Linked DNA regions of Homo sapiens. The protein of the gene in region 4 interacts with the protein of the main gene of each other region in a biochemical or structural test. Each region holds a gene or a part of one and is shown on either strand. Other genes may lie near its edges.

What was found.
Region 1: the proteins of ADORA2A (region 4) and NECAB2 form a complex in vitro, tested with the Homo sapiens proteins (one study listed by BioGRID and IntAct).
Region 2: the proteins of ADORA2A (region 4) and CYTH2 form a complex in vitro, tested with the Homo sapiens proteins (one study listed by BioGRID and IntAct).
Region 3: the proteins of ADORA2A (region 4) and USP4 form a complex in vitro, tested with the Homo sapiens proteins (one study listed by IntAct).

The regions. Positions count from the first base shown.
Region 1 is NC_000016.10:83,997,455-84,003,361, reverse strand, and holds the end of NECAB2 (N-terminal EF-hand calcium-binding protein 2), read right to left. Parts: intron 5,158-5,907; coding exon 5,045-5,157; intron 2,639-5,044; coding exon 2,561-2,638; intron 1,538-2,560; coding exon 1,446-1,537; intron 1,045-1,445; coding exon 1,016-1,044; 3' UTR 586-1,015; downstream 1-585. UniProt on the Homo sapiens protein: May act as a signaling scaffold protein that senses intracellular calcium.
Region 2 is NC_000019.10:48,478,044-48,483,363, reverse strand, and holds the end of CYTH2 (cytohesin-2), read right to left. Parts: intron 5,296-5,320; coding exon 5,219-5,295; intron 5,090-5,218; coding exon 5,018-5,089; intron 4,927-5,017; coding exon 4,772-4,926; intron 4,242-4,771; coding exon 4,154-4,241; 3' UTR 1,050-4,153; downstream 1-1,049. UniProt on the Homo sapiens protein: Acts as a guanine-nucleotide exchange factor (GEF). Promotes guanine-nucleotide exchange on ARF1, ARF3 and ARF6. Activates ARF factors through replacement of GDP with GTP.
Region 3 is NC_000003.12:49,335,180-49,344,316, forward strand, and holds the start of USP4 (ubiquitin carboxyl-terminal hydrolase 4), read right to left. Parts: upstream 4,875-9,137; 5' UTR 4,846-4,874; coding exon 4,745-4,845; intron 418-4,744; coding exon 290-417; intron 1-289.
Region 4 is NC_000022.11:24,423,153-24,432,069, forward strand, and holds the start of ADORA2A (adenosine receptor A2a), read left to right. Parts: upstream 1-4,446; 5' UTR 4,447-4,594; intron 4,595-6,053; exon of another isoform or gene 6,054-7,212; intron 7,213-7,744; exon of another isoform or gene 7,745-8,410; intron 8,411-8,917. UniProt on the Homo sapiens protein: Receptor for adenosine. The activity of this receptor is mediated by G proteins which activate adenylyl cyclase.

The DNA.
Region 1 (5,907 bases), on a different chromosome or scaffold from region 4:
ACATGATTTCCAGTTGATAGGCGGGGTCTCCTGCTGTGTTGAATGGCTAATGCACAGACGTGCCGGGAGGCATTCACCCGTCCCTGGAGCGTCCTGCCTGGTGACAGTGTCTGTGTTGAGCCACACTGCGTGGTCTGGGCCAACCATGTGATTTATGGTGGGGTGTTGAGCCATGAGGTGTCAGCGTGTATGCGTCACCGAACCCCAGTAAGACTCAGGACTGCATCCCTGATTGGTGATGCTCTATCAGCATTGAAGCTGGGAGGGTTCAGTGCTATGGGCCTTTACTGGTAGCCCCGTGCCTGGCCCCCCACTCCGGGAGCCTCTTTCTTTGCTGGATTTTGTCTGTCTGTCTGTCATCTACCTACCTTGACCGTGACTTTGACAGTTGTGCCCAGTCCTTTGAATTACTGACCTGAGGGTAGGTGTGGTGCTGAGCTCCTGAATAGGCATGAGCCTAGTTCCCAAATACCGCATAGAGTGACCACCACCATTTCATGGTTCAGAAAACTGAGGCTGGGAGCACTTGAAGGGTCCCTGGCCCCCTGCTGTTGTCAACCAGGAAACAGACACAGAGCACACAGCTCTTCCCAACCAGGGTTTATTTGGCGCCTGGGCACAGTGGTGGCTACCTGGCTAGGTTGGGCACTACAGGGGCATGACTCCTACTAGGTAGAAGAATGTCACCGAAGAGGGCAGGGTGTGGTCAGTGTGGGTCATGCGTGGCCATGTGAGGGGTAGGGGAGAGGCCAGGACCAGGAGGCAGGGGTGCTGGCTCCAGGAAGCCGCCCCCTTCAACCTTGGGCTTCACCAGGACCTGGCAGCACAGACACTGCTCTGCCTTCTCAGGTGGGGGCAGGGGCGGCCTCCTTCACTTAACAACAGGGAAACACCTTCTTGTGGAGGATGGATTGAAAAGAAGCTTCTGCACCAAAGTGTCTGTCTAGAAAAAAACGGGATTTCCTTCACAAGAAGAAGGGGCTGGTGGGCTCCTCCACGGGCCTCTGGGAGGCTGTCAGTCCCGTCCCACCGTGCACCAAGCAGCTAAAAGGAGAGAGACACGTTAGAGGGAAGGAGTGCGAATGTGGGCAGCCTCGTAGCTGGTGGTGGTCGTCTTGAATGACAGGTCGGGGGATGGCTTTGAGTCCTTGTGTGACACACAGGTCCTTGCTGGTCACCCAGGTGCAAACCACACACCTGGGAAGGGAAATTCAGTCTGGCTGGAAGTAGGGGGCCGTGGAGGGGGTGCTCTGGTGCAAGCTCTGGCAGGCATACCTGTATGTGGGGCCACCTCAGGGCTGGCTCTGAGCCTGGCATTGGTGGCAGGAGCTGACAGTGGGCCCACAGCAAGCAGGCAAGTCCCCGGGAGATATGGGGCAGCCTCTAGGCTCTTGCCCTTCTCTCCAGTCAGGTGGCCACTGCAGTTCCAGGCCTTTGCCCCCTACCTGGCACCAAGATCCTGGAGAGGGCCTCAGGCTGGCTCAGTGTGTCCACCTTGACGTGCCGGAACGCCTTACACAGGGGGCTCTGCAGGTGCCTGTGACGCAGGGACATGTGTGAGTCAGGGGTGGCAGGAGTGGAGCTCCGCGTGTGGCTCCCCTGTTAATCCTAGCTCTAGCCCAAAATGGGGAGCTTATCAATAAGCACGGGGGGTCTTTGGACTCAGAGCCTTTGTGGGAAGGTGAGGGGGTGCCCAGGGAGGCTGACTCTGGGGTGGGCAGTGAGCTTCTCTTTTTCCCTGTGAGCTATAAATGGGCAGCGGGATCCCCCCACTCATTGCACAGAGCCTCTACCTCCCCCTTTACCCTAGCAGGAGGAGTGGGGCCATCCTCTGCCTGGGACCCATGACAACACAGAAGCTGCGAAGGCTTTTAGTCCCTCGTTTTATGAGTCACTGAAGTACGGACAGGGAGGGGACACTCTCACTTCTCATGACCGCCCCTGTTCCCACTGGGGTCCTGAGTTTGTCAGCAAACCGTGAGTGTTTACCAGGGAAGCAGGAGATGGGGGCATGGGCTACCCCTAGGCCCCGCTTCCTGCCTGTGGGGTCTGGCGCATCAGCAATAGTCTCCACCCTCTCCCAGATGTGTGCTGAGCAGAGGACAAAGGCCTAAGGCCCATCAGAGCTGCTGACACCCTACCCCATCTCCGTCCCTCGTACCGGGCACTCAGCTGGAGGGGAGGTTAGTCGCTGGAACAATTGATCACATGGGGACTGAGTCACCTTCTAGGTTAGGCCCTCAACTCTACAGGGTGGTAAAGAAGGCAGTGCCTCGGCCCCCAGGGCTGTTCCAGGAGGACAAGGTGCTCTAGGGGCACAGAAGCAACCCTGGGGAAAGCAGGAAAGCCCAGCTGAGTGTGGTGGGGGCTCTCACTACCCACCAAGAGCTCCTGCCTCCACCAGGGTTTACTGACGCAAGCATGCCAGCGGGTAGATGCCTCGGGAATCTGCTGACTGGACTCGGCCTTACCCTCCCCTCCAAGGATGCCTGGCTCCAGGAAGACAGCCCCCCCACTTCCCTCTGTCTCCCTCACCTGCTGTGGGGACCCAGCATCTCACCTCTTCCACGCCTCCTCTGTCTCCCAGAACTCATAGATGACAAAGGTGAAGCCATCTGAGAGCCTCACGGCAGTGATGCTGCAACAGGAGATGGTCGGGGGGAGGAGGCTGGAGCTCAACCAAGGCCACCTCAGTGCTGTTCCCCTGGGGTGGCCTGAGACCCACCACTATACACAACGGCTGCCTTCAATGTTTCTTCCTGTCTTGACCTCCATCGAGACTCGACAGGGTGACCCCAGCACAGGGAATAAGGCCTGGCTTCTTATAGTGGCCAACAGCTATTTATTAAATAGAATCAATGCAGTGTAGTTTTTCTTTTGAGATAGGGTCTCACTCTGTTGCCCAGGCTGGAGTGCAGTGGCACAATCACTTCAGCCTTCCAAGTAGCGGGGACTAGAGGAGTGCACCACTCGGCCTAATTCAAAAACTGTCCCAATAGAGATGGGGTCTTGCTATGTTCCCCATGCTGGTCTTTAACTCCTGGGCTCAGGCTGTCTTCTCACCTTGGCTTCCCAAAGTGCCAGGATTGCAAACTTCAGCCACTGTGCCCAGCTGAAATGTCATGTTAAAGTGTGAACATTTATTTAAACAAAACCAGGTGGCTGGATGTGATGGTTCACGCCTGTAATCGCAGAACTTTGGGAAGTCTTGAGGGGTCGAGGCAGGTGGATTACGTGAGGTCAGGAGTTCAAGACCAGCCTAGCCAACATGGCAAAACACTGTCTCTTTAAAAAAAAAAAAAATAAAACTTGCTGGGCCTGGTGGCACATCCCTGTAATCCCAGCGATGCAGGACACTGAGGCATGAGACTCATTTAAACCCTCTGGTGAGAGGTTGCAGTGAGCTGAGCTTCCACTACTACACACTCACTCCTGCCTGGACAATAAAGCAAGATTTGGTCTCAAAAAACCTTTAAAAATCAAAAAACCTTTAAAAATCAAAGCATCTTCCCTCTTCTTCCTTCTACTTGTCCTCTCATTTAATCCTTGCAACACCCCCACTGCACTGTACCTGACCTGACCAAAGGAGGCTGAGGGGAGGGGGTGCTGGGCCACAGAGGAAGGGGCTGCAGGCAAGTCCCCCATTGCTCTATGGGACCCAGGGGCCCGCACTCACGTCATTTTAAAGGTGCTGATAGTCTATGCCGCCCCAGAATCCTCTCTGCAAGTGCACTACAATGAGGAAGCCCCAAGTGACCATAAAGCGGGGGCCAAAAGCTGGGGAGGAGGGGCTACAGTGCTCAGCCTAGAGGAAGGGGCCGGGCTGGATTCCATCTTGGGGTGGACACACCTCCGTGCAGCTTTAGGTGCACCATGCCTGGGAAGTAGAATCTCACCTGGCTCTCCAGGCTTGCCGTCTCCAACTCGACAAACCAGAGCCTCTACGTCCACCGTGCCTCCTCTCCACAGCGCATCGGGGTGGCCCTACTTCACCCTGGAGCCTCCCACTTATTCACGTAATGGAAAAAGATCAAGTCTGGCCCCTGCTCCTGTGCAGTCTGTCCTCCTGGAGTGGAGTGGGTCCTGCCCCCCCATCCTGGCTACTTACTCAAGAATGGCCCCTCGTGGCCACGCCGAGTCTCGGGAACGGCCGCACTCCTGCCCAGGCTACTCCTCCCCTCGTGCTACAGGTCAGGCTGTTGTCACTCAAGCCTCAGTGCACAGGGGGCCCAAGAAGACCCCTCTCAAAGACCCTGTGCTAGGACCTGGCCTGCCTGGTTCACAGCCATGTCCCCAGGCAATGGGGTGAATGAGTGTGTGCTCTGGGGATGGAAGAAAGCCCTGGGAAGGGAGTTGGGCAGAGCCTTGCTGCAGAAACGGGGGGCGGGGGACCACTACCAGCAAGAACAAAGGGCTGTTGTCTTCTGCAACCCCCTCCACTCTGGCCCTGGCCACATGCCTTAGCTTTACCAAGGAGCTACATCAGCCTGGTGGGATGAACAGGAATTTGAAGGTAAGGCCGCTTGCCCCGCCCTGGACATCTCAGCACATCAGGGGGAGAAGGGCAACTACATGACTTGGGCATTTCCCTTCAGCTACCGACTCTCCTCTCCTTCCTCAGTGGTTAACTGAGCAAATACTACATTCTGGGCCTGGACTTAAGTGTGCAGGAACCCCTGTGACAGCAGCAGCTGAGGCTGACTGAGCGCACGGGGCACACCAGGCCCAGCTGGAGCCCTTCACACTTGAGATTCACACACTTGATTGTATATGCACTCATGATCACCCCAGCAAGGAGTCCTGGGGGTGGTCCCCCCTTTACAGATGAGTAAGCTGATGCCAGGGAGATGAAGACACCTGCCACATTTGCTTGGCTGGGAGGAACCTCAGTAGAGACCTGAACCCACTTCTTACGCATCCAGCTGTGTGTGTCCCTGGGGTGCAACTTGTACTACTTAGGGCAAAGCCTAGTCCTGCCCTGTTCCTCCACTGCCAGGCAGAGCTCCCTGCCACCATCCCACCCACGCCTCGGCAGCTCACTCACTGGAAGCAGTTCCTCACGCCAGTGGTCCCCCGCAGATACTGGCGCAGAGAGTCCAGAAACTCGCTCAGTTGCTCGGGGCACACGGCCATCTCCTGCCGGACCAGCTGCAGGTGCTGCCGGGCACAGCAGGAGTCAGTGTGGGGCTCCACGTCAGGCCTTCTCCCTAAACACCCCATCAGGCCCCCATGACCTCCCTTCCTCGGTCAAAATAAAATAACCCTCCCCCACTTTTCATTCTTACCCATGAATGGATAAGAATGGACTAAAAATGGGCTAAGAAAGGACTAGAACCTCAAGAGCCCAGTGCAGAAGTAGCCCCCAAAAATGGGGAAAACAGACGAGGTTGTTTACAGAGGCCCCATCCATGTCCACAACCACCTGCACAGCCTCCAGGGCCTGGAGACACAGCACATCCACTGACAAGAAAAACTCATAGTTGATGGACTCAGCATTTTCACATCACTGTCTGGCTGATCACTTTGCTCTATGCCAAACCTTTTTTGGATCAAAGTCCAGGAGCCTCTGGGCCAGGTGTGGTGGCTCACGCCTGTAATCTCAGCACTTTAGGAGGCCAAGGTGGGCAGATCATGAGGATAGGAGTTTGAGACCAGCCTGACCAACATGGTGAAACCCTGTCCGTCTCTACTAAAAATACCAAAAAAATTAGCCAGGCGTGGTGGCACACACCTGTAATCCCAGCTACTCAGGAGGCTGAGGCAGGAGAATTGCTTGAACCCAGGAGGCAGAGGTTGCAGTAAGCCGACATCCCACCACTGCACTCCAGCCTGGGAGATACAGCAAGACTCCATCTCAAAAAAAAAAAAAAAAAAAAAAAAAAGGTCCAGGGAGCCTCAAGAAATACC
Region 2 (5,320 bases), on a different chromosome or scaffold from region 4:
GAGGGGCTGGGGGCCTGGACTCCCGGGTGTGAGGGAGGAGGGGCTGAAGCCTGGACTCCCGGGTCTGAGGGAGGAGGGGCTGGGGGCCTGGACTCCCGGGTCTGAGGGAGGAGGGGCTGGGGGCCTGGACTCCCGGGTCTGAGGGAGGAGGGGCTGGGGGCCTGGACTCCCGGGTCTGAGGGAGGAGGGGCTGGGGGCCTGGACTCCCGGGTCTGAGGGAGGAGGGGCTGGGGGCCTGGACTCCCGGGTCTGAGGGAGGAGGGGATGGGGGCCTGGACTCCCGGGTCTGAGGGAGGAGGGGATGGGGGCCTGGACTCCCGGGTCTGAGGGAGGAGGGGATGGGGGTCTGGACTCCTGGGTCTCAAGGAGGAGGAGATGGGGGCCTGGACTCCTGGGTCTGAGGGAGGAGGGGATGGGGGCCTGGACTCCTGGGTCTGAGGGAGGAGGGGATGGGGGTCTGGACTCCTGGGTCTCAGGGAGGAGGAGATGGGGGCCTGGACTCCTGGGTCTGAGGGAGGAGGGGATGGGGGCCTGGACTCCTGGGTCTGAGGGAGGAAGGGCTGGGGCCTGGACTTCTGGGTCTGAGGGAGGAGGGGCCGGGGTCCCCAACTCCTGGGTCTGAGGGAAGAAGGGGCTGGGCCTGGACTCCTGGGTCTGAGGGAGGAGTGGTTAGTTATCTAGGGCTGACATAACAAAGTACCTCAAAATTAGTGGCTTAAATCACAAAAACTGAAGGTCTCCCAGTGCTGGAGGTCAGAAGTCTGAGATGAGGGTGTCAGCCCTGGCTGCTCCTGAGGCTGTGAGGGAGGATGAGTCCCCGGTCTCTGGCTTCTGAGGGTGTGCCGGCAGCTTTGGTTTTCCTCGGTTTGTAGAGGCGTCACCCCAATCTCTGCCTTCACCTCCACATGGTGTCATTTCTGTGTGTCTGGGTCTCTGTACAAACTTTTATAAGACACACATCCTATTGGATTAGGGCCCACATGAATGACCTCATCTGAACTAATTATATCTGCAATGACCTTATTTCCTAATCAGATCACATTCTGAGATGCTGGGGGTTAGGATTTTAATATAAAGTTTTTTGTGGGGGTGGGGGAGACACAATTTGATCCGTGCTGAGTCCATTTTGTGTTGCTCTGACAGAAGACCTGAGGCTGGGTCTTTATAAAGGAAGAGGTTGATTTGGCTCAGATTCTGATGGCTGGAAGGTTCAAGACTGGGCAGGTGCACTCACTGAGGACCTCCCTCATCCCTGAGGCTGCTGCTGCTTCTGGGGGAGGGCAGAAGGATGCAGCTGTGTGCACAGAGATCACATGGTGCTGAAGGAAGCAAGGGAGAGAAAACCAAATTCCCAAATTCCCAAGGGTGAGCACTCACTCACCCCTTAAGGCAGGCATTAATCTATCCATGAGGACTCCACCTCCAAGACCACACAGCTCCTTATGAGGCCCCACATCCCAACACCTGCCACACTGGGGCTCGAATCTCAACATGAATTTTAGTGAGGACAAACGATATCCAAACCATTGCCACCCAAAAGAAGTGGGCTGAGGCCTGGCGCGGTGGCTCACACCTGTAATCCCAGCACTTTGGGAGGCTGAGACAGATGGATCGCCTGAGGTCAGGAGTTCGAGACCAGCTTGGCCAATATGGTGAAACCCCGTCTCTACTAAAAATACAAAAATTAGCTGGGTACGGTGGCTCACATCTGTAATCCCAGCTACTCGGGAAGCTGAGGCAGGGGAATCGCTTGCACCTGGGAGGTGGAGGTTGCAGTAAGCCGAGATGGCGCCATTGCACTCCAGTCTAGGGCACAAAGTGAGACTCCCTCTCAAAAACAAAACAAAACAAAACAAAAAACAAAAAAAAAAACCTACAAAAAAAATCAGAAGCGTGCTGGGAGCTTGGGGGTCCTGGGCGAGGAGGGAGCCGGACGCAAAATCCTCAGGTCCTGGGGGAAGATGGACTGTGGGCAATGCTGAAGGTCAGTGTGACGTGATGCAGCCTGGCTGGAATGTTCCACAGGCATCTCCAGCTTAATTTGGTCAAAACGGAATGCCTGATTTCCCCTTAAATACTCCCTTTCGACCACCTCAGTCATGGCACCGTCATTCACCAGCTGCGGCGGCTCTCAGCAAGTCCTTTTGGCTCCTCTTTCAAGACTCCTAGCGTGGCCCAACGTTCTCCACCTCCACAGCCACGCCATCCTGCACCGCACAGCTTCCTCTCACCTCCCCGCTCGCCTCCAAATTATTCTCCCTGAAGCAGCCAGGGGCCCCTCCTGCAACCTCAATCCAAACACGTCAGGCCCCTGCCTCCTGCCCTTGCACGGCTTCCATCTGCTAAGAATCCAGCCAGAGGCCCTCCTGGGGCGGCCCAGGCCCCACGCGACCGGCCGCCTGCCTCTGCCCTCCCCTCCCGCCGCACTCCCCTCTTCGCCACCAGCGGGCTCCGCGCCTCTTCCTGCCTCTGCCTGCCACGGAGCCGGCCGCCCTGCATGCAGTTCATCCGGGGAGGCGGCAGGAAAGGGTGACATAGTGGCGGGACCCGCTGTTTACCCTGGGACCTCATCTCCCACGACCTTCTTGGGTCGATGACTCCGTTTCCCTGGCACCTGTGGGAAAGAGAAGTGGGGAATTCTATTTTCTCATTTGGAACTCCATTTCCCACCAGCCCCCGGGGCCGCGGCGGTCAAAGCCTCCTCTACCCTCCACAAAAGTACGGGATCTGACTAAGAAAAAGAAGACAAACGCCGCCACGGAGTCTCGGGAAACTGCGACGCCCGGAAAAACCTCGGGTCTGGGTCACCGTGGCTTTGGCGCCGCACAGCCTGCCGATAACTGTAGTCCACCTTCCCGCGGAGGGGCGCAGGGTACCCCCACCGCGGGGGCCTTCAGGCCGGCAGGTGCCTGTGGCCAAGGGCGGGACAGGGATCAAAGCCCGAAATTCCGAAGCGCCGCATCCCATCGGAGAGCTCAAAAGCGAACACAGCGGGCAGGAGGGACTACAACTCGCGGCACGCCTCGGGGCCACAGGCGCCTCTCCCACCCGCGTCCCGGTCCCTGCTGGGACTTGTAGTTTGTTAACTAAAGAGCGCCTCAGCTTCAAAGGCGGGCATGGGAGAGTGACATGGGACCTCCCAATCCGCCATCGCACCCTGCTCGGGATCCACGAGCCCTTGTTCTTTGGGGACACCACACATACCCCAACTGGAGGGCAAAAGGTCACAGACCTTAGCCCAGGATTCAGGGGTACCCCACATGCCAAGACTTCACCTTCATAGAGGCGATCCTCGAATTTCTTTGGCTGTCAAGAATCCCAGGAAAGACGTTCAGAACGCAGGTCCTCAGCCCTATCCTTGACACAAAATGTCCTCCAAAGGAGGCTGATCCTTTGAGAACAGACAAGCCTGGCTCTGGCACTGGCCCACAGTCCTGCCCTCTTAGCCCGATCTAAGGCTGCCCAGCCCTTCAGGACATCCCATCAGCAAGGCCCTTGCAGGACATGGGCCACCTCCCCACTCATCCTTCCCTGACCCTCCCTGAGGTGGTCGCATGTTCTTCCAGCTCCAGGTTGTCCTCAAAGCCCTGGCCCAGCTCACAACCTCACCAGCTTCATCTCCTGCCCCTCAAAGACCTCAAGCCCCATGAAAGCAACGATGGGAACTAGCTGATGGCTGTAGCGTAACTGGCTGATGGCTGTCAAGTAACTTCTAGAATGAATGCTAGACCTTGACCCTGAATCCCTGCATTCTAAACTCTGTCCCCGGCCAATTCCAACTCCAGACTCCCACCATATTAACCTTCTCCCTTTACTCCACTCCTGCTGGGCTCGGGGTGAAACCAGAACAGACCCACCGGGACAGCCCAGGCAGCACCCAGAGACAGGCGGGTCCAGGCCCCTGTCCAGGGAAACAGGCTGGCTCCACGGAGCACCTCGACTCTGTCAACCCCAAGAAATGAGGGGGTCAGCAGGCCAAGTGGTTAAATAATTAATAAGATTACCAACAGCGTGTTAATTACAAAGAACAGTGAGGAGCTAGAGGTGGTGAATTTTCCAAACAGGGAACCAGGATCCACAGCCCCAAGGCCCAGGGGTCCGGCCACCCAGGCGGGGCAGCTCCGTAATAAATAATGGAGTTGGGGGCAGGGGGTCAGGGCTGCTCCTGCTTCTTCTTGACTGAAATCCGCTTCTTTCTCGCTGCCAGCATCTCATAGAAGGGGTCCACACTCACAGCCGCCCTGCAGAAGGGGAGGGGTCCCAGGATGAGGGCCAAGGAGTCCAGGCCTCCAGCCCCTCCTCCCTCATACCCAGGAGGAGTCTCAGACCCCCGGCCCCTCCTCCCTCAGACCCAGGAGTCCAGGCCCCCGGCCCCTCCTCCCTCAGACCCAGCAGTCCAGGCCCCCGGCCCCTCCTCCCTCAGACCCAGGAGTCCAGGCCCCCGGCCCCTCCTCCCTCACACCCAGGAGTCCAGGCCCCCGGCCCCTCCTCCGTCAGACCCAGGAGTCCAGGCCCCCGGCCCCTCCTCCGTCAGACCCAGGGGTCCAGGCCCCCGGCCCCTCCTCCGTCAGACCCAGGTGTCCAGGCCCCTGCCCCTCCTCCGTCAGACCCAGGAGTCCAGGCCCCAGCCCCTCCTCCGTCAGACCCAGGCGTCCAGGCCCCAGCCCCTCCTCCATCAGACCCAGGCATCCAGGCCCCTGCCCCTCCTCCATCAGACCCAGGAGTCCAGGCCCCAGCCCCTCCTCCATCAGGCCCAGGAGTCCAGGCTCACTGGATGGACTTGATCCACTCGTCCTTCTCCTCCTGCGTGGGGGCCGAGATCCGGTACACCATGTGGTTTCCCTCCACCACTCGGCCGTCCGCCTCAGTTTTGCAGGCTTTGATGAGCTGCCCCTTGTTGTTGGGGATGTAAAGTTCAAAGCAGTTCTGGGGACGAGAGAGGAAGGGCGCAGGTAAGAACCAGCCCTGGGCAGAGGAGGCCCCGCCCTGGCAGGAAGGTGTACAGAGAGGGTCTTACCGGTTTCCGGGGGTCGTCCACCTCTCGGATGCTCAGATTCTCCAGGGGGATGATTCCTCGGGGCTCCTTGTCCTGAAGAAGCAAGGTGGACAGAACTCAGACTTCCAAGTCCTCACCCCACCCCACCTCCCTCAGCCCCAGGAGTCCAGGCTCCCAGCCACTCCGCCCAGGACCCCAGAGCCCGGGTCGGGTCACGCTCACCGTGGTGTACTCAAAGTAGTAGAGGCAGTTGTCTGTGAGGATAAACCAGCGCCGCTTCCACGTCTTCACCCGGCCCCCTGAAAGGGAAGGGGTGGGAGGGGG
Region 3 (9,137 bases), on a different chromosome or scaffold from region 4:
ATTCCATATACTAACTTAAAATGTGAAATAGCTAGCAGAACTAATTTGCAAAGAGAGAAAGTTAAAATGTTAGAAGCATACTCTTATCAGATGCAGTTAATTTAAGGGAAAAAAGTAGCTTAACTTCTCATTAAGGGTTTGCAAAGACTTCTGCTATAGATGCAAAATGAGGATACTTGTTTCTATCTCCTCACACTAGGAAAGTTCACAACGTCCATGTTACAGATGCACATAACATCAGGCCACTGCCCAGGTGAATGTTTAGCTAGAAAAGCAACATTTACTATACCTGAAAATAGCCCAGAGTTGTCTATTGGGCCAGGAAATAGGTTATGTTCACCCACATTGTACATGTCCCAGCTGTCAAAGCCCACATACTTCTTCCACTGCTTGAACCACCGGCTGTCAATAAGATACCTAGAGAGAGACAGAAATTTACTGTAGCAGAAAAGCTGAGATTATAAATTTCTGCAGCTGCTTCCTTAATCTTTTTTATGGTCCTTCCACTTGGGGCATATGCAATACCCACTAAAAAACACTGTCACAAGAGCAAGAGCAGGGCCCAGGCCCCACATGGCACAGAGAGTCTGGCCCAGGGTATGCATCCATTAAGTGAAATGATTGTTCAAAGAGTGAATAAAAGAAAGAAAACAAGTGGTTTCAAAATGCTTATTTAAATGCAGTCTTTCTTTTTTTTTCTTTTAGACGGAGTCTTGTTCTGTCGCCCAGGCTGGAGTATAGTGACACAATCTTGGCTCACTGCAACCTCTGCCTCCCAGGTTCAAGCGATTCTCCTGCCTCAGCCTCCTGACTAACTGGGATTACAGGCACCTGTCACCACTCCCAGCTAATTTTTGTATTTTTAGTAGAGACGGGGTTTCACCATGTTGGGCAGGCTGGTCTCAAACTCCTGACCTCAGGTGATCCGCCTACTTCGGCCTCCCAAAGTGCTGGGATTACAGGCATGAGCCACTGCACCTGGCCTCTTTTTTTTTTTTTTTTTTTTTTGAGACGGAGTTTTCGCTCTTGTTGCCCAAGCTGGAGTGCAGTGGTATGATCTTGGCTCACTACAACCTCCACCTCCTGGGTTCAAGCAATTCTCCTGCCTCAGCCTCCCAAGTAGCTGGGATTACAGGCATGCATCACCAGGCCCAGCTAATTTTTTTGTATTTTTAGTAGAGATGGAGTTTCACCATGTTGGCCAGGCTGGTCTCGAACTCCTGATCTCAGGTGATCCTCCTGCCTTGGCCTCCCAAAGTGCTGTGATTACATGCATGAGCTACCACACTCAGTCTAAATGGAGTCTTTTCATGGGTAAAATCATGTTTGCTAATAAACAAGTCATTAACTTCTTTTTTTTTTGAGACAGAGTTTCGCTCTTGTTACCCAGGCTGGAGTGCAATGGTGTGATCTCGGCTCTCCGCAACCTCCGCCTCCCGGGTTCAAGTGATTCTCCTGCCTCAGTCTCCCGTAGCTGGGATTACAGGTGTGTGCCACCACACCTGGCTAATTTTGTATTTTTAGTAGAGACAGGGTTTCTCCATGTTGGTCAGGACAGTCTCAAACTCCCTACCTCAGGTAATCTGCCCACCTCGGCCTCCCAAAGTGCTGTGATTACAGGCGTGAGCCACCGCACCCGGCCACAAGTCATTAATTTCATAATGATCTTTACAGAAGTCCCACTCCAGGCAGACAGTTTGGTTACACTGTTTTGCTTGACATGAACAGCACTAAACTAATGCTCTTTCTGAAAATGGGTTAGAAACACCACCCACTTCAGTTTTCCTTTAAGGACCAAAGGAGTTCCAAAAATGTACACACAAGGCCAGGCGCAGTGGCTCACACCTGTAATCCCAGCACTTTGAGAGGCCGAGGTGGATGGTCACTTGAGCTCAGGAGTTCAAGACCAGCCTGGGCAACAAACCCCATCTCTACTAAAATTACAAAAATTAGCTGAGCGTGGTGGCACATGCCTGTAGTCCCAGCTGCTCGGGAGGCTGAGGCACAAGAATCACTTGCACCCGGAAGACAGAAGTTGCAGTGAGCTGAGATCATGCCATTGCACTCTAGCCTGGGTGACAGGAATAAAACCCTGTCAAAAAAAAAAAAGTACATAACATGCGTGTACATATATAAATATACACATACACATGTACATATAATAGTGCCTATTGTTCATCTTGTCAAAAAGCATTAATTTGTGCTTCATATTCAACTTACCACTTTTTTACTTAAATGTAAGCAAATGTGGTATTTTATTTACCTATTTATTTCCTTAGAGAGAGGGTCACCCAGGCTAGAGTGCAGTGGCACAATCATAGCTCTCTGTAGCCTCAAACTCCTGGGCTCAAGTGATCCTCCTGCCTCAGCCTCTGAGTAGCTGTGACTATAGGCACATACCACCATGCCTGGCTAATTTATTTTTTTATTTTTATTTTGTAGAGGCTAGCTCTTGCTATGTTGCCCAGGCTGGTCTTGAACTCCTGGCCTCAAGTGATCCTCCTGCCTCAGCTTCCCAAAGTGCTGGGATTACAGGCATGAGCCACTGCACCAGACCTGTTTATATTTTTAAAGTATCACTGTGCTGGCCGGGAGCGGTGGCTCACGCCTGTAATCCCAGCACTTTGGGAGGCTGAGTCAGGTGGATCACGAGGTCAGGAGATCGAGACCATCCTGGCCAACATGGTGAAACCCTGTCTCTACTAAAAATACAAACATTAGCGGGGCATGGTGGTGCATGCCTATAATCCCAGCTACTCGGGAGGCTGAAGCAGGAGAATCGCTTGAACCCGGGAGGCAGAGATTGCAGTGAGCCGAGATCGCGCCACTGCACTCCAGCCTGGTGATGCAGCGAGACTTCGTCTCAAAAAAAAAAAAAAAAAAAAAAAAAAAAAGTATCTCTATGCTGTTTTACAATTAAAACAATCTCTGTGGAGCAACAAAGCATCAACAATTATATTGGTGCATCCTTAAAATTTTATAACCAACAAATGTGAGAGGAGGTCAGGCAGCTTCCCAGAGGTCACAAGGATCCATAAACACATCCATCTCTAAAATGCTATTTTTCTTCCAAATCCCTTGAGCAATACCTTCCATACAATTTTACTGTATGATTTTAGTCTATCTTAAACTTCCTCTACTTCTGCTGAGTATTCTTTATGAACCCTATAGAGGTTAACTTAAAAAGTACCTCTGCTAGGCCGGGCGCAGTAGCTTCCGCCTGTAATCCCAGCACTTTGGGAGGCCACAGCGGGCGATCACCTGAGATCTGGAATTCGAGACCAGCCTGACCAAAATGGAGAAACCCCGTCTCTACTAAAAATACAAAAAAAATTAGCCGGCCGTGGTGGCGCATGCCTGTAATCCTAGCTACTGGGGAGGCTGAGGCAGGAGAATCGCTTGAACATGGGAGGGGGAGGTTGCCGTGACCCGAGATCGCGCCATTGCCCTCCAGCATGGGCAACAAGAGCGAAATTCCTTCTCAAAAAAAAAAAAAAAAAGAAAAGAAAAGAAAAGAAAACACAAAAAAAGTACCTCTGTTTACCCTGCCTTTCACAAACTGGTTAGCTCAAGGTGAATACATAAGCTGTTATCTGTACTCCTCCTAACCCCAATTTTTCTATTCTCCTGCTCAATTCCTCGGCAGATCATCACCACAATGATTTCTTAAAGATAGGTAACACTCGGGCCGAGCACGGTGGCTCCCACCTGTAATCCCAGCACTTTGGGAGGCCGAGGCGGGTGGATCATAAGGTCAAGAGTTTGAGACCAGCCTACCCAACATGGTGAAACCCGGTCTCTACTAAAAATACAAAAAATTAGCTGGGTGTGGTGGCGTGAGCCTGTAATCCCAGCTACTCGGGAGGCTGAGGCAGGAGAATCGCTTGAACCCGGGAGGCGGAGGTTGCCGTGAGCCAAGATCACGCCACTGCACTCCAGCTTGGGCAACAAGAGTGAAACTCCATCTCAAAACAAAACAAAACAAACAAGATGGGTAACAATCATACTCGATGCAAAGTCTAGCCTTAGTTTTTCTACTCCTACACAATTACACCACCCAGGAATCTCTCCAGTAGTACAAAGTATTGTCCCCTCTACTAAACAATCTATTAAGATGCCTAATAACTCAGCCTGGGTCTTCTAAATTCTGGACCCTTCATCTTCTATCTAGCTCCAGGACCTAGGCTATCCTCCTCTCCCACTCCAAGACACTGCTGCCGCAAATATTTTTGACACTTGCTACCAAAATAATCGGGGTTCTCAGACATTTGTTCAGCTTCTGACCTTGACATCTGTTGGCAGTTTACAAGTTACAAAGTATCTACTTCTGATTTTCCCCTCAACCCACTGAGGTCGGTGAGCCAAATATTGCTATCCTGGTTTTAACAGTGAGGAATCCAGGTCTGTGACACCTTCGCCCAAGGTCACACGGCGAGTCCTCATGGTAAAGGGCTCTCCCCACCCTTAGGGTCCCCACCAACCTTCCCCTTCTCCACATCCCTCCTCCTGGCCCCCGCCGGGCCCGCCCCCTAGGGCTCCAAATGAACTGAGACGACACTCAGGCCCCGCCTGCGCTTTCCCAGAGCTGATCCTGGAGTTATTCTCCTGAGGGGCAGGTGTCAGGCTACTCTTCCAGGGTCACTACATACCATCCCCGCCCAGCCCCTACTCTAGCCGAGAAAAAGGAGGCCCCTTTTTCTCGGCCCCTGGTTCTGCATAGAGGAAGAGCGAGCCGGGAGCTCACCACTGCGCCCCGCGTTGGAGTGTGGTCCTCATTAAGGGTCCAAGCTCGGACTTCTGAGTCTCCGCATCCGGTCGCTCACGGCAGCCTCCACCTTCCGCCATCTCCTCCGCGGCCCCGGCCCAGCCGGCCCGGACATCCGCCCCGCGCGCGGCGTGCTATAGACCGCGCCCACGCACGCACGCTCGCGTGCCCGCCCCTGCCCCACCTCGAGCCGCGGCCTTCGGCTCCTGCAGCCGCTGTCTTTTCTCCCCTCCGCTCTCGCGCCACCTAGCTCACCGGCGAACAGTGGAGCGGAAAGGCACACGCGAGAGGGGTGGGCGGGGAGCAGCAGCTGCTACTTCCTCCCGCCCTGCCGCCCGCTACGCGGCCTTCGGGCGCCCCTTCCTCTGCTCAGGATGGCGCTACACTTCGAAGCTCTGTTCAGCCCGCCGATCTCAGGGAGTTAGGCAGCAAGCCCACGACCCATCGGGCACCCCAGCCTGGCCTTCGAGGTTATCGTGGTCCTAAATAAATGCAGGCCAGGTGCGAGAAGCCCGGTAGTTAGGTCTGCTCATTCTCACCCCTGCAATTCCGCTTTCAGCTGGAGGCCTTAGGCGAGTCAGCTGCCCAAACGTGGGATCGGGGCTCCTGCTCCAGCGGCCCTACAGGGATTTCGGGAAGTACCATGTGCACCAGCGCCTTGGGACCAAGACTCAATGGTGTGTTGTAGTCATTAACAGTCGCCTTAAACAGTCGACGCCAGAGCCACCTGGCCCACCGCAGAATTCCGTCAGCTCTTCATACTGAGCTACTTGCCAAGCAGCCACAGAGGGGCGATAGCAACAGGGGAAGGAGAGGTACTCCACATTAGTTACCCAGGCGTGTACTTAGTTCCTGGAACAAGATACAACGTCCTGAACACTATGTTTTCCAGTCGCCCCGCTCACACACACAACCCTCCTCTTGGAGGGAGAAGTAAACCCAGAGGAAAGAGGAAGTCAGGCAGTTGGTCTAGATGCGTCTCCATACACTTGTCTAACAGTCCTTGTCCTCAGAGAAAAATAAGACCTAGTTCCTGCCCTCATAGAATCTAGTAGAAAAGAAGAGATGTTACAGAAATAACCTCAATGCCTAGCAGTATGTGGTAAGTGCCATTAAAGTGTGTGAACCAGGCCGGGCGCGGTGGTTCAAGCCTGTCGTCCCAGCACTTTGGGAGGCTGAGGCGGAAGGATAGGTTCAGCCCAGGAGTTAGAGACCAACCTCGGCAACATAGCGAAATCCCGTCTCTACAAAAAAATACAAAAAATAGCCGGGCAGTGGCTCGCGTCTGTGGTCCCAGGTACTTGGGAGGCTGAGGTAGGAAGATCCCTTGAGCCCAGGAGGTCGAGGTTGCAGTGAGTCGAGATGGCGCCACTGCACTTGAGACTGGACGGCAAAGTGAGACCCTGTCTCAAAAAAAAAAAAATAAATACAAATAAAGGGTGTGAACCGGCCGGGCGCGGTGGCTCACACCTGTAATCCCAGCACTTTGGGAGGCCGAGGCAGGAGGATCACCTGAGGTCGGGCATTCGAGACCAGCCTGACCAACGTGGAGACCGAAATGTCTTAAAAAAAAAAAAAAAAAAAGACCGGGCGTCCGGCGCGGTGGTTCATGTTTGTAATCCTAGGACTTTGGGAGGCCGAGGCGGGCAGATCACGAGGTTAGGAGTTCGAGACCAGCGTGGCTAATATGGTGAAACCCCTTCTCTACTAAAAATACAAAAAAAAAAAAAAAAATTAGCCGTTAGTGGTGGCCCACACCTAGTCTCAGCTACTCGGGAGGCTAAGGCAGAAGAATCGCTTGAACCTGGGAGGCAGAGGTTGCAGTGAGCCGAGATTGCGCCACTGCACTCCAGCCTGGGCAACAGAGCAAGACCCCCTCTAAAAAAAAAAGGGGGTGTGAACCAAAGGCTGTAGAACGCCAGGCACAACCCCTGCTCTCATAGGAAGCCTTTGACTTGAGTAACATTTGAGTGTGGTATTGAAAAAAAATGCTGGCAGAATAAAGATGAGGATGCATGTTACAGGAGGGGAGACTCAAGGGACCAGAAGATAATTTCTGGAAAAGGCAGGACAGGATCAGAGAGTGGGGATTAGGCCAGTTGAGGCGGGCACTACAACGCTACAACAGCCTAAGGGGATCTAAAGCTAGAAAGGAGGCCAGACAGACCATATATCCTGCCTTAAAAGGCAGGCAGGCATTATAGGAAGTTTTGAAGCAGAGACAAAATGGCTGAGGGTGCTTCACGCCCACGGTGGTGTAACTCAGACACAGAACCATTAGGAACCTCTCACTATGGAGGTGGCTGTGAGGGAGAAGAGGAGAAACAGAGAAGCCATGTCTATTTTATTTTATTATTCTTATTTTTCTACCTATTCCTGTTGAAAAGATGAGCTATGTTTTGTGTCGGGGGTGAAGGAAGGGGAACTGGCCCAGTGAAAATACGGTAGGTCATTTGAACAGATTTACTATTTTTATGTTGGGTTTGGCCAATTGAAATTAATTTGCACTCCCTGGGTCATCCATCACACACCATCTGATAAGAAAGGCCTCTTGGCAATTGGGTAGATAGTAGGAGAAAGTAAATATGGAATTAAAACTGCCTTAAATAACCACATAGTAATTAATCCCCTGTAGATAAGAGTTACCACCACCACATGATGATTCTACATCTGCAGAGCCAACCCTAACAAGTCCCCTTCTATGAAAGTTCTTTGAAACTCGTTTTTGTTTTGTTTTGTTTTGTTGTTTTTTCTGAGATGGAGTCTTGCTGGGTCCCCCAGGCTGGAGTGCAGTGGGGCAATCTCAGCTCACTGCAACCTCTGCCTCCCTGGATCAAGCGATTCTCCTGCCTCAGCCTCCTGAGTAGCTAGAATTACAGGTGTGCGCCACCACGCCTGGCTAATTTTTGTATTTTTAGTAGAGATGGGGTTTCACCATGTTGGGCAGGCTGGTCTCAAACTCCTGACCTCATGATCCACTGGCCTCAGCCTCCCAAAGTGCTGGGATTAAAGGTGTGAGGCACCGTGCCCGGCTGAAACTCTTAAAAATGTTATCAAAAAAGAAACACTACCTTTAGTCCTGTTATTTATGGAAAAAGAAAGTTGAGGCCAGGCGTGGTGGCTCACGCCTGTAATCCCAGCACTTTGGCTTTGGAAAGCCAAGGCAGGCGGATCGCCTGAGGTCAGGAGTTCGAGACCAGCCTGGCCAATGTGGTGAAACCCTGTCTCTACTAAAAATGCAAAAATTAATTGGGCATGGTGGCGAGCACCTGTAATCCCAGCTACTCAGGAGGCTAAGGTAGGAGAATCACTTGAAACTGGGAGATGGAGGTAGCAGTGAGTCAAGATCGCACTACTGCACTCCAGGCTGGGTGACAGAGAGAGACTCTGTCTCAAAAAAAAAAAAAAGTTGGTTACTGACATCGGTTCAGAATCTACATTTCAGGGTGTCTGCTTCCCTCTTCTTTTTTTAGCAGTTTCACCAAACCATTTATGGCAGTCTTAAGGAAGACAAGTAGGACAAGTCCTCAGCACCACTAGAAAAGGGGACAAAACCTAATTATAAAAATGAAAAATTTGGACAATATTTTTAAGTCAGGAATTTAGTGCTTTTAATAGCTATAAAAATAGCGCACTAATTATTGGTAGCCCTTAAAAATTAATATTAGGATTGCAAAATATTCTTCTTGATATCTGGGTATTTGGAGGGAAAAAAAGAAAAATAAATAAATAAAAGATTACAAAATGCTGGTAGTTGAAATGTGAAGAATAAAGTGAATTCCATAGTTGGAAGATCACCTTTTTTTTTTTTTTTTTTTTTTTTGAGACAGAGTCTTTGTTGCCCAGGCTAAAGTGCAGTGGTATAATCATGGCTCACTTGCAGCCTCGACCTATTGGGCTCAAGTGATCCTCCTACCTCAGCCTCCCAAATAGCTGGGACTACTGGTCTGCATCACCATGCCTAGCTAACCAGACTACTGGTCTGCATCACCATACCTAGCTAATTTTCATATTTTTAGTATAGATGGAGTTTCACCATGTTGCCCAGGCTGGTCTTGAACTCCTGGCCTCAAGTGATCCTCCGCCTCCCAAGTGCTGGGATTGCAGTCATGCGCCACCGTGCCCGGACTACAAGGTCACCATTATTTACAAAGTCTTTAAACTTTGTTAGCCAGTTTGTTTGATTTAAATGGTGGGGGTGGCCGGGCGCAGTGGCTCATGCCTGTAATCCCAGCACTTTAGGAGGCCAAGGCAGTCGGATCAGGAGGTCAGGAGTTCGAGACCAGCCTGACCAACATGGCGAAACCCCATCTCTACTAAAAATACAAAAATTATCTGGGCGTGGTGGCATGGGCCTGTAATCCCAGCTACT
Region 4 (8,917 bases):
CCTGACCTCGTGGTCCGCCCACCTCCGCCTCCCAAAGTGCTGGGATTACAGGCGTGAGCCACCGCGCCCGGCCGGCAATGGGGGCTTCTTAAAAAAGAGGGAGGCTGGGCCCGGTGGTTCACGCCTGTAATCCCAGCACTTTGGGAGGCCGAGGCGGGCGGATCACGAGGTCAGGAGTTCGAGACCAGCCTGACCAACATGGTGAAACACCGTCTCTACTAAAAAATACAAAAGTTAGCCGGGCGTGGTGGCGGGCGCCTGTAATCCCAGCTACTCGGGAGGCTGAGGCAGGAGAATCGCTTGAACCCGGGAGGTGGAGGTTGCAGTGAGCCGAGATCGCGCCACTGCACTCCAGCCTGGGCGAAAGACCAAGAGTCCGTCTCAAAAAAAGAAAAGAGGGAGTGTGGGGGTGGGGCCCGGAGCGCTCCAAGGGGCGGGGAAGGGGACTCCCAGGCCCGAGGACTCCTGGAAGGGAGGTGAGTGTGGCGCTGAGGAAGCGGCGGGACGGATGCGAGCCCGGGAGGAGCGCGCTGGGGGGCCGCAGGCGGGGGATGTGGCGCGGTCCAGGCCCGTCGCGGCCTCGTCCTGACAGGGACACCTGCGGGATCGTCCTTCCAGGATCGCCTGCGGGCCTCGCGGGCCGATGCCTCGGGTCCCCCTCCGGCCTCGGTTTCTCCGCGCAGCGGGGCGGGGCGGGGGCAGCGCGGGTCTCAAAGCTGCCTGCAGGGGGCGCCCGTGAGCGGCGCGGCCGGAGCCGGAGACCCAGCGGCCGCCGAGACAGCGGGAGCCGGCGTGCGAGCGGCAGGTCAGCCGGGGTGCTAGGTCTGGCGTGCGGGGTCCTGGGTGCCGGGTCCGGGGTGCGGGGTGCCGGGGGTCCGGGGCTGGTGGCCGGGCGGCGTGGGGCCGTCGGGGGTGCGGGGCCGGGAGGACTGGGAGGCTGGGGTTCTGCTCCCCTCAGGGTTCCTTTCCCGCCGCCCCGAGACCAGTTCCCCGGCGCGGGGTCCGAGTCCTGCCCCGCGGCGGCTGCCGGCACTGCCTGTGAAGGGCCCAGGCACAGTCACGTCCCAGGCGCAGTTGCGGCGCCGCGTGCGGGACCCTCCGAGCTGTCCCAAACTGCACCGGAAGGCGCGCAGGGGTAGGCGGGGAGGGAAGGCAAGTGCGGCGGCCGGCGCGGCGCGGGGTGCGGAGCCGCAGGTAGCGGGCGGGGAGCGTCCGTCCGTCAGTCCGTCCGTCCGTCCATGCGCCGCAGACCGGCCCCGCGCGCTCGCATGAACCTTCGCGAGCTCCTCCAGCAGGGATGGACCGGGGGCGCAGAGGCGCTTCCTGAGGGGTGGCGGGCCGGGCCCCGGGGCGAGGGAGATTCCCCAGGTGGAGGAGCCGGGCGGAGACCGGTTCCCCGGGAAGGTGAGGCGCGGGCAGAGATACCCGAGCGCCCGGGACGCGCCGAGAAAGGGGGAATCAGGAACGCTGGGCCGAGCGCTGGCGTCTTCCGTGGACAGTGGTGGCGGGAACTGGGTTTGGGGGACCCAGGAGACGACGGGGGACGGATGGGGGTGGGTGCGCGCCTCGGACTGGCCCCGGCCGTCTGTCTGGCTGCCCGGAGCGGAGGTAGGAATGGCGGGAATGGTGGCGGCTCTCGAGGGATTTGGCGCAAGGCGGCCCAAGGGCTTGAGGAGGAGGCCGCGGGCCGGCAGAGCTGAGGTCCCTGTGTCCCGCACTCAGACTTTAGTTGCCCCGACTGTACCATGGGAGGAAGAGGGAGACCCAGGGCTGGGTCCTAGGCTGGGGGAGTCGGGGCCCTGCAAAGACGCGCAGGTGTTTGTGGCCCTTGTTGGAGGGTGAGCCGCAGGTCAAGCCAGCCCTCCGTCGCCATCCTGAAGCACCTCCTCTCTTGGGCTCTGCCACACACAGGGCCTTCTCCCCTATTGCCAGGTGCTCAGGCCGCCTCCACCCTGCCTCTGCTGCCGGCTCCCCCTGGGTTCCCCGGCGGGGCACCCTGCCGATACTCCATGACGCGCCAGGGCTGCCCCAGGGTGCCCCAGCCCTGGGGACCATGGTGGAGGGTTCTGTGGAGCACCGCGGGCCTGGGAAGCTGTTGCGGGGTCGGGGCTTCCTCACTGGCCCTGCTTTGGCCGTTCCTGGAGGCCTTGGGTGGGGCTGGGAAGGCCGGGCCCTGTGGGCAGCACCCCCCCCCCCCCCGCCCAACATCCCGGCAGATCCATGGCAGGGGCGCCTCACAGGCTGGTCCACGGCCACGGTGTCAGTCCCTCCTTGTTCTGCGCTTGCTTTTTGGGGTCTCCCAGCCTCTCCCTAGTCCTAGAGTTTCTCAGGCAAATCCCAGCCACTACCCCTCCATCCGTGTCCCCTGTTTCCCCAGTGCTGAGCTGGCTGAGCTGTGAGCTTTCCTGCTCCTTGCCTCAGGAAGCCAGGGGCAGCCCAGTCACCTCTGGCCAGAGGCGGGCCTTAGGCCAAGGCTGACCTGGCTGGTCTGAGAGCTGTGCTGGGCTTCTTCCCATATCAGTCTGTGAATTACAGATCCCCAAATATGCCCTGCGTCGCGATGGAGGAGGGCAATCAATGGCAATGACTGCCTCATGGGCAACGCGATGTGCTGGAGATTTCAGTGCTCTCGTCTGGGTTCTGGTCTTGCCTCCTCGACCCACTCGCTGAGCAGGTTGCTGTCCCGGGGAATCTGATATCTCATCTGTAGAACAAGGATGATGATCTTAGCAATGCCTAATGTGGAAAGGCCTTGGCTTGGGAGCAAGTGGGGGAAGGTTTAGGGCAGACCAGAGGGCCGGTGAGGGGTGTGTGCTGGAGCGGGGAACCCGGGAGGGAGGGTGTTAGGCTTGAGGGTCAGGGGACACCACAGGGATTGCTGTTGGCAGAGGGACATATGAATGGTAGTTGGCCTGGGAGCCAGCATGTGACTTGAGAGCATCACGTCCTGCAAAGTCCAGGTGAGGCCTGGGCAGTGCCTGCTGTGTGGGACCACAGCCCCTGGTGGCTCTCAGCTGTGTCCTGACACTCCAAAGAAGGTCTTAGTACCCTCTCACAGACCTAATACCCGAGCCACCTAACCCCAAATGAGCTAGAACTGCCTTCCCAACCGTGTTTGCGGGGTCTGTCTTGTCTATTGCAGCGCAAACAGAGCCCTGAGCACGCAGGAGAGCAGAGGAAGGACAGACAGAAGATGGATGGATGGATGAAGGCGGGAAGCACAGGCTGAGGGGATTTAGGGCATGTGTGGTGGGGGTGCTGTGGAGAGGAGACTGCACAGGCAGGAGCTGAGCTGGTGAATGGGAGGGTTCTAGCTCCCAGAAGGGTCTGGGCCATTGACAGGAGGGGCTTGGTCCTAGGAGGTGGGTGGTCCAGAGGTTGCAAGGAGCAGAGGAGCCCAGATGGGGAAGGGAATGGAGCTGGGGTGCAGAGAGGAGCCCCCACACAACTGCCCACATCCTGTGCAGAACCTGGGGCTCTGGGTGGTGGGAAGAGGCAGTTTCATGGCGGAGGAGGCCTGGGCCCCTGCAGCCTGGACTCCATGGATCTGGCCAGGGACTGGGGAGGATCAGGTGGAGAGAGGAGCAGCAGAGCAGCTGCCCCTCGTCCCAGCACAGGGGATGATGGGAGCCCAGGGAAGGCAGGACCCTGGCTTCGGGCATTTTCTCTGCTAGAATCTCTCGATACCTCTCTCCCTTCACCTTCTCCTCCAAGTCTCACCCAGATGATGTTTCTGTGAGTTGCCATGGGGATTCTCTCACCACCCCCCGCCAACACCCCGCAGGGGAAGCTTGTTCCAGGAGTCACTGGGCAGGGGCTGCTGCTGCTCTTCTGTGCCCACTCCTCGGATGTGCCGCTGCAGCCCTGGTCTCTGGCATCGGCCGTCACCTGGTGGAGAGGCTGCCGGAGCTGGCCAAGCAGAGGGAGGCCGATGGTGCCACTTGGTGTCTCCTCTGGCATCTGGGCAGGAGACTTCTCCCCAGAGGCCCCGGGCTGGTCTGCCCGTGTCACAGGAGGACTCGCCTCTGGTCCCTCAGTGGCCTCTGCAAACCCTGAGCCAGCCTGGGGGAGGCTGCTCAGTGGGGAAGAAGCAGTGGCCAGGCTCTGCTTGGTCACCCTGCCCTCCTGTCAGCCTCCGGGGCTGCCTCGTCGCACCTGCCCAGGGACCCAACAGCCGGTCCTCACCCCTCCCATCCTCATTGCAGCCACCCTGGGGCATTGTGAGGCCCTGCACCCAGCACTGCCCCTTCAAGCCTCCCACAGGGTCCCGCCCAGGACTCCTGGGCTCTGTGTCCGCGGGGCCATCTAGAAACACTCCCTTGTCCCCCCTTCAGCGGCATAGTACCTGTTGCCCGCCATCTGAGGGAGGTGCAGGTGCCAATCCTTCACGTGACGTGACGTGGCTCACCACAGCCTGTGTACATGTGAGCAGCCGCGTGCAGAGGGGAAGCTCTGCCTGGGCCTCAGGGACTGTGACATGGAGCAGGAGCCGCCCCCAGCCAAGCTGCTTTCAGCACAGCGTGGGCCCCCAGCACCTTGGTGCGGGGTGCGGCCCCTCGGAGGAGGGCTGTCAGGTGAAGCCTCGTGTGAGGGGGTGAGTGGCCCCCAGGCGGGGAGGAGGGGGTGCTGTGGCCTTCCTGGCCCCTAGCCTGGACACATGGGGGTGTGGGGAGCAGGAGCTGGGGCCCCCAGCACTGGCCCCGGGGCTGCGATGTGGGGGCTGCTCTGTGAGGCAGGCTCAGAGCCTTAGCCTCCAGCTGCAGGGAGCTGGGTCTTGGCCCCATCTTGCCCACATCCTGCCACCAGGAGCAGAGAGCTGCAGCTGCACCCGGGCTGTGGGGGAGGGATGCCAGGTGTATCTCTGGGTCCCGGGCCCAGCCTGCACCCAGCGCCTGAAGTAAGGGCCACCGGGCAGCCCCGGAGGTCAGGAGGGAAGTGGAGCCCGTGCTGGGTGGCTGCTTACCACTGGGCAGTGAGGAAGGCACCTGCGCTGATGAGTTTGGAAGGGGTATGGGGATCCTGGGGCCCTGGGTTCTGGGAGGTTCATGCCCAGGCCCCCCTGGGCCATCCCAAAAGCCAGTCATAGTGGGGCCCACAACCTGCCGTGCCCTGCCGAGCTCCCGCAAGCCACTTGTTGATGCTTCTCAGTCCACCCCATGCCTCTCAACCGTTTCCTCCTAGACTAGGTCTCTTCATGGCGTTTCTGGGAGAATTCCTCAGTACTAGCTTCAGATCCCCAGTCGTCTCTTCCACTGTACGTGTGCCTGAAGCTCACCACATCCCTTACTTCAGTCCTTCTATTTTTCAGTCCCTGGATTTTGTATTATTTCTTGTTCATATCCACCTGTCCTTGTTTCATTTCCGCCAGTCGGTTCAGAAGTTCTCATTCTTGTCTACGGATGCCATTCCTTTCTTTGCCTCTTTGGAGATTCTAAAGGTCTCTGAAATCATTATTAGATTACTGTATTACCTTCCTTCCTACTGGAATGAATTCACCTCCATGTTTTTTATTCTGTTGCTTACCTTTCTTAGCCTTCATATACCTCTTGCGCTTTGAAATTGATTTGCGACTCCTCTTAGCTGAGCCAATGTTGTGGAGACAGGGAGTGGCCTGCAGTGCCTGAAACTGCAGGGCAGCAGCCGCCTCCCAGGAATGTCCTGGGTCCTTTCCTCCTTTGAGGTCCCCTGCCATATGCTCAGATGGGGCCAGGCACAGCAACGGGGGCACACCTCCCTTTGGCCCAGCAGTTGGGGTGCTGCCAGGCCTGGTGGAGGTACTTGGTAAACATTTGTTATGGAAAAGCAGCAGGAGGGTTCTAAGGCTGGGATTCTGGAGCCCAGGAACAGGCCAGGCATGGCTGGAGCGGGTCCGAGTCCGTGCACTGTGTCCTGTATGTTGCTCTTAGCCGCACTCAGGAGCAGATGTGCAGGTCACTGCCTAGAAGCTGGTGGGCACCTCCGTGCAGCAGGCTCTGGGGGGTATAGCCACCATCTGGGCATGTGTACAGAGGGCCTTGCTAGTGCGACATATGAGGAACCAGAAGATGTGTGGGTTTTGATTAAATGGAGTTTTAATTAAAGTGGCCAGGTTGGGGGAGGTGAGGAGGAAGGCAGGAAGCAGCAGCAGTTTTGAGTCTGACCGCGTGGAATCCTATAAGGTGGTTCTTTCAAGAGGCATTATGCACATTCCGCAGCATGTGTCCCCTGTCTGTATGGGGCAGCATCTGCCCTCTGATCTGTCCCCAACAAGGGGTAATCACAGAGAAGTATTACATTATTAATATTTAATTTCCCCTCCTGGTTAGCAACAGATGACTCAAGGAGTAATTAGATGCACAGAGCCAACAGAGAGGGATAGGAAATTGCCAGATCCTGGCCCCGCCCCCTCCCCGGGGCCTCTGACCTTCCTGTCACTCTGGGAGGCTTCTGAGGGAGGGGAGCTGGAGGCCCAGGAGCCTTCCTGCTGCTGTGCTCTCTGTGCGCACGGCCGCAGCCCTACACCACCTTCCAGTGCTCTTGGTGAGGCTGAGAGAGGTCGCTTCGTGCCTTTGGGCCTCAGTTTCCTCATCTGTAAAATGGGCTTCCTGGGACCAGCAAGATCACAGATGACAGTCATTTCCCAAGCTCCTAAGCAGGCTGCACAAGCTGTGTCTGAGGGTCCAGTGCAGTGCCTGGCCTCTAGGCAGGTGCCCCCTGGGACGCGTAAGGTTTGGCAGCTCAGCAGTGACTGGCATCGTGGCCAGCTGACTCTGTGTTGCTCCCCAGTTACGGTCCACGACACATTAGTAGCTTGAAACTGGGCACAAGGGGAGAATTTACACCACAGAAATCAGGCAAAGCCTGTAAGTCAGGGTGCCCCCGGCCAGGAGCTGATTTGCCAGCCTACGGCTGGGTAGCTCCCAACCTTTCCCCAATGAATGCACTCCTCTTCCCCTGTCTGCCCCAAAGGTGCCTCTGACTCCACTGATCTGCTTTGCTCAGGGCCGAGAAAGGCACAGCTGAGAGTGGATTCTGGCTTGGCAGGGGCCCAGGTTGCCTGTGGGTCCGGGCAAGCCTCACCCGGGATGTGCTGGCAGCAGCTGGGAGAGCCTGCAGGAGTGCTTAAGGAGGGGCTGAGGGAGAGGACGGGCAGCGAGGTGGCCTGTGTGGACCCTGCTGGCAGGAGCCGTGGGTGTCTTTAGCCCCGTGTGAGGCCGGCCTGGGCAGAGGGGTCTGTTGCTGTCACTGAGGCTGGTGGGCAGCAGGAAGGTGGCTTCAGTATAGTCAAGAAGGTTATCGGTATCTAGTGCTGTTTAGCATGGGGACCCACAGCACAGAAGGTGGGGAGACCCTGAGAACGGGGGTACACAGGCAGGTACCCAGGGCTGCCAGGGAAGCCTTGCCAAACAGAGGCCCTGGTCAGGCTTCTCCCAAACTGGGCATCCCAGCTGGCATGGCACCAGTCCAGCCCGTGAGGCAGGCGCCGATGATTTGACCCCACCAGCAGGGCTCTGGGTGATGGGACTGGGGAGTCCTCCTTCACTTTGGCAGACGTGTTATGTTCCACCTTGTTTGCCCCCAGCAAGGCCCTTGAATCTGGAGCGTGGTCTGGGGCTGCATCAGCCTTCTAGCCTGGGATGGTCAGATTGGCAGAAGGCTGTGGCATCCTTCAATGCAGATGCCCTAGAGAGGGCCGTGGTGGGAGGCAGGATCCCTGGGTAGAGGCGGCTCCTCAGTGGCCCACTGGGCCTCACTGGACAGTCGCCTGTTGCTGCTGCTGGTGGTGCTGGGCCTGGGAGTCCACCTTGGAGCCACAGGCCAGGCACCTGGGTGGGAGGCAGCCCGGGGCCAGCACCAGCTCCACTTGTACCTGTTGGGCAGGGGCTATCGTGAGTCAGGTGGGCCCTGGTGAGTACTGCTCAGGGAGAGAGGCCAAGAGCATCAGGGATAACTGTGTTCCTTGAGTGTGGCCAGGGATGGTGCCAGGAGAGCTGGTCTGGTGCATCCCTGCCAACGACACACTTTGTGAATGGCTGCCTGGCAAGTGCTCCATGGAAAGCAGGGGCTTGGGAGGACTCGGCCCTCTCCAGCTGCTGCAGGCCCTCCGTTGCTGCAGGGTTTCTGGCTCTGCTCTCTCCTTCCTCCTCCTGCTTCTGTGTCAATGCTCCATTCCCAGGCTCCTAGTAGGGGCAAAAGGGCCTGCTGGGTGCAGGAGAACCTCCAGTCCCAGGTATGGCTGCAGCCCGTGCCAATCCTGTTCCAGCCACTTGAGGTGCCGACAGCATTGGAGTTGGAGGGAAAGTTGGGGTCTGTGTGTTTGAGCTCTGTCACATGGACAATGGGGTAGAGGGGAGCCTGGCCCTTTGAACAGGGCTCAGGACCAGGAGTGACTTCCTCTCCAGGTTGCCAGTCCTGCTCCATCCCTCATGTCCTGGAAGAGAGAGAGAGACGAGGTGGCTGCCCGAGTCCACGTGAAAGGCAGCCTCTGACCTCTTGTCCCCAGGCAGGTGGTGGCGGCTGGCAACACACTCATAGGGCCCCATGAGGGTTCAGGATTGGAGGGGGTAGATTTGGGGGCCTCTTAGCTCTCAAAGAGGGGCAATTTAACGGGCAGAGGTCCATTTGGATCCAGACCATTCACAGGCTCGAAGGGGACACTGGGAGTTGGGGCTGGGCTCAGGCCTGCTGGGGAACCAAAACTTCTGCTTCTGAGGGGTGTCAGTAATTCCATTTTGACTCTGGGGGAGCCATTTTAAATCTGTTTATTTCCTTCTCATAGAATCATGGGTGAGAGCTGGCATGGCCCCTAGAGGTCATTTGGGGTCCAGCTGCCTCACCGTATCAATGAGGAAACTGAGGCCCAGAAAAGAAAAGCATTTTTGCCCAGAGTCCCTCAGTGAGTCCTGGTTCCGTACCTGCTTTCTGCCAGGGACCAAAC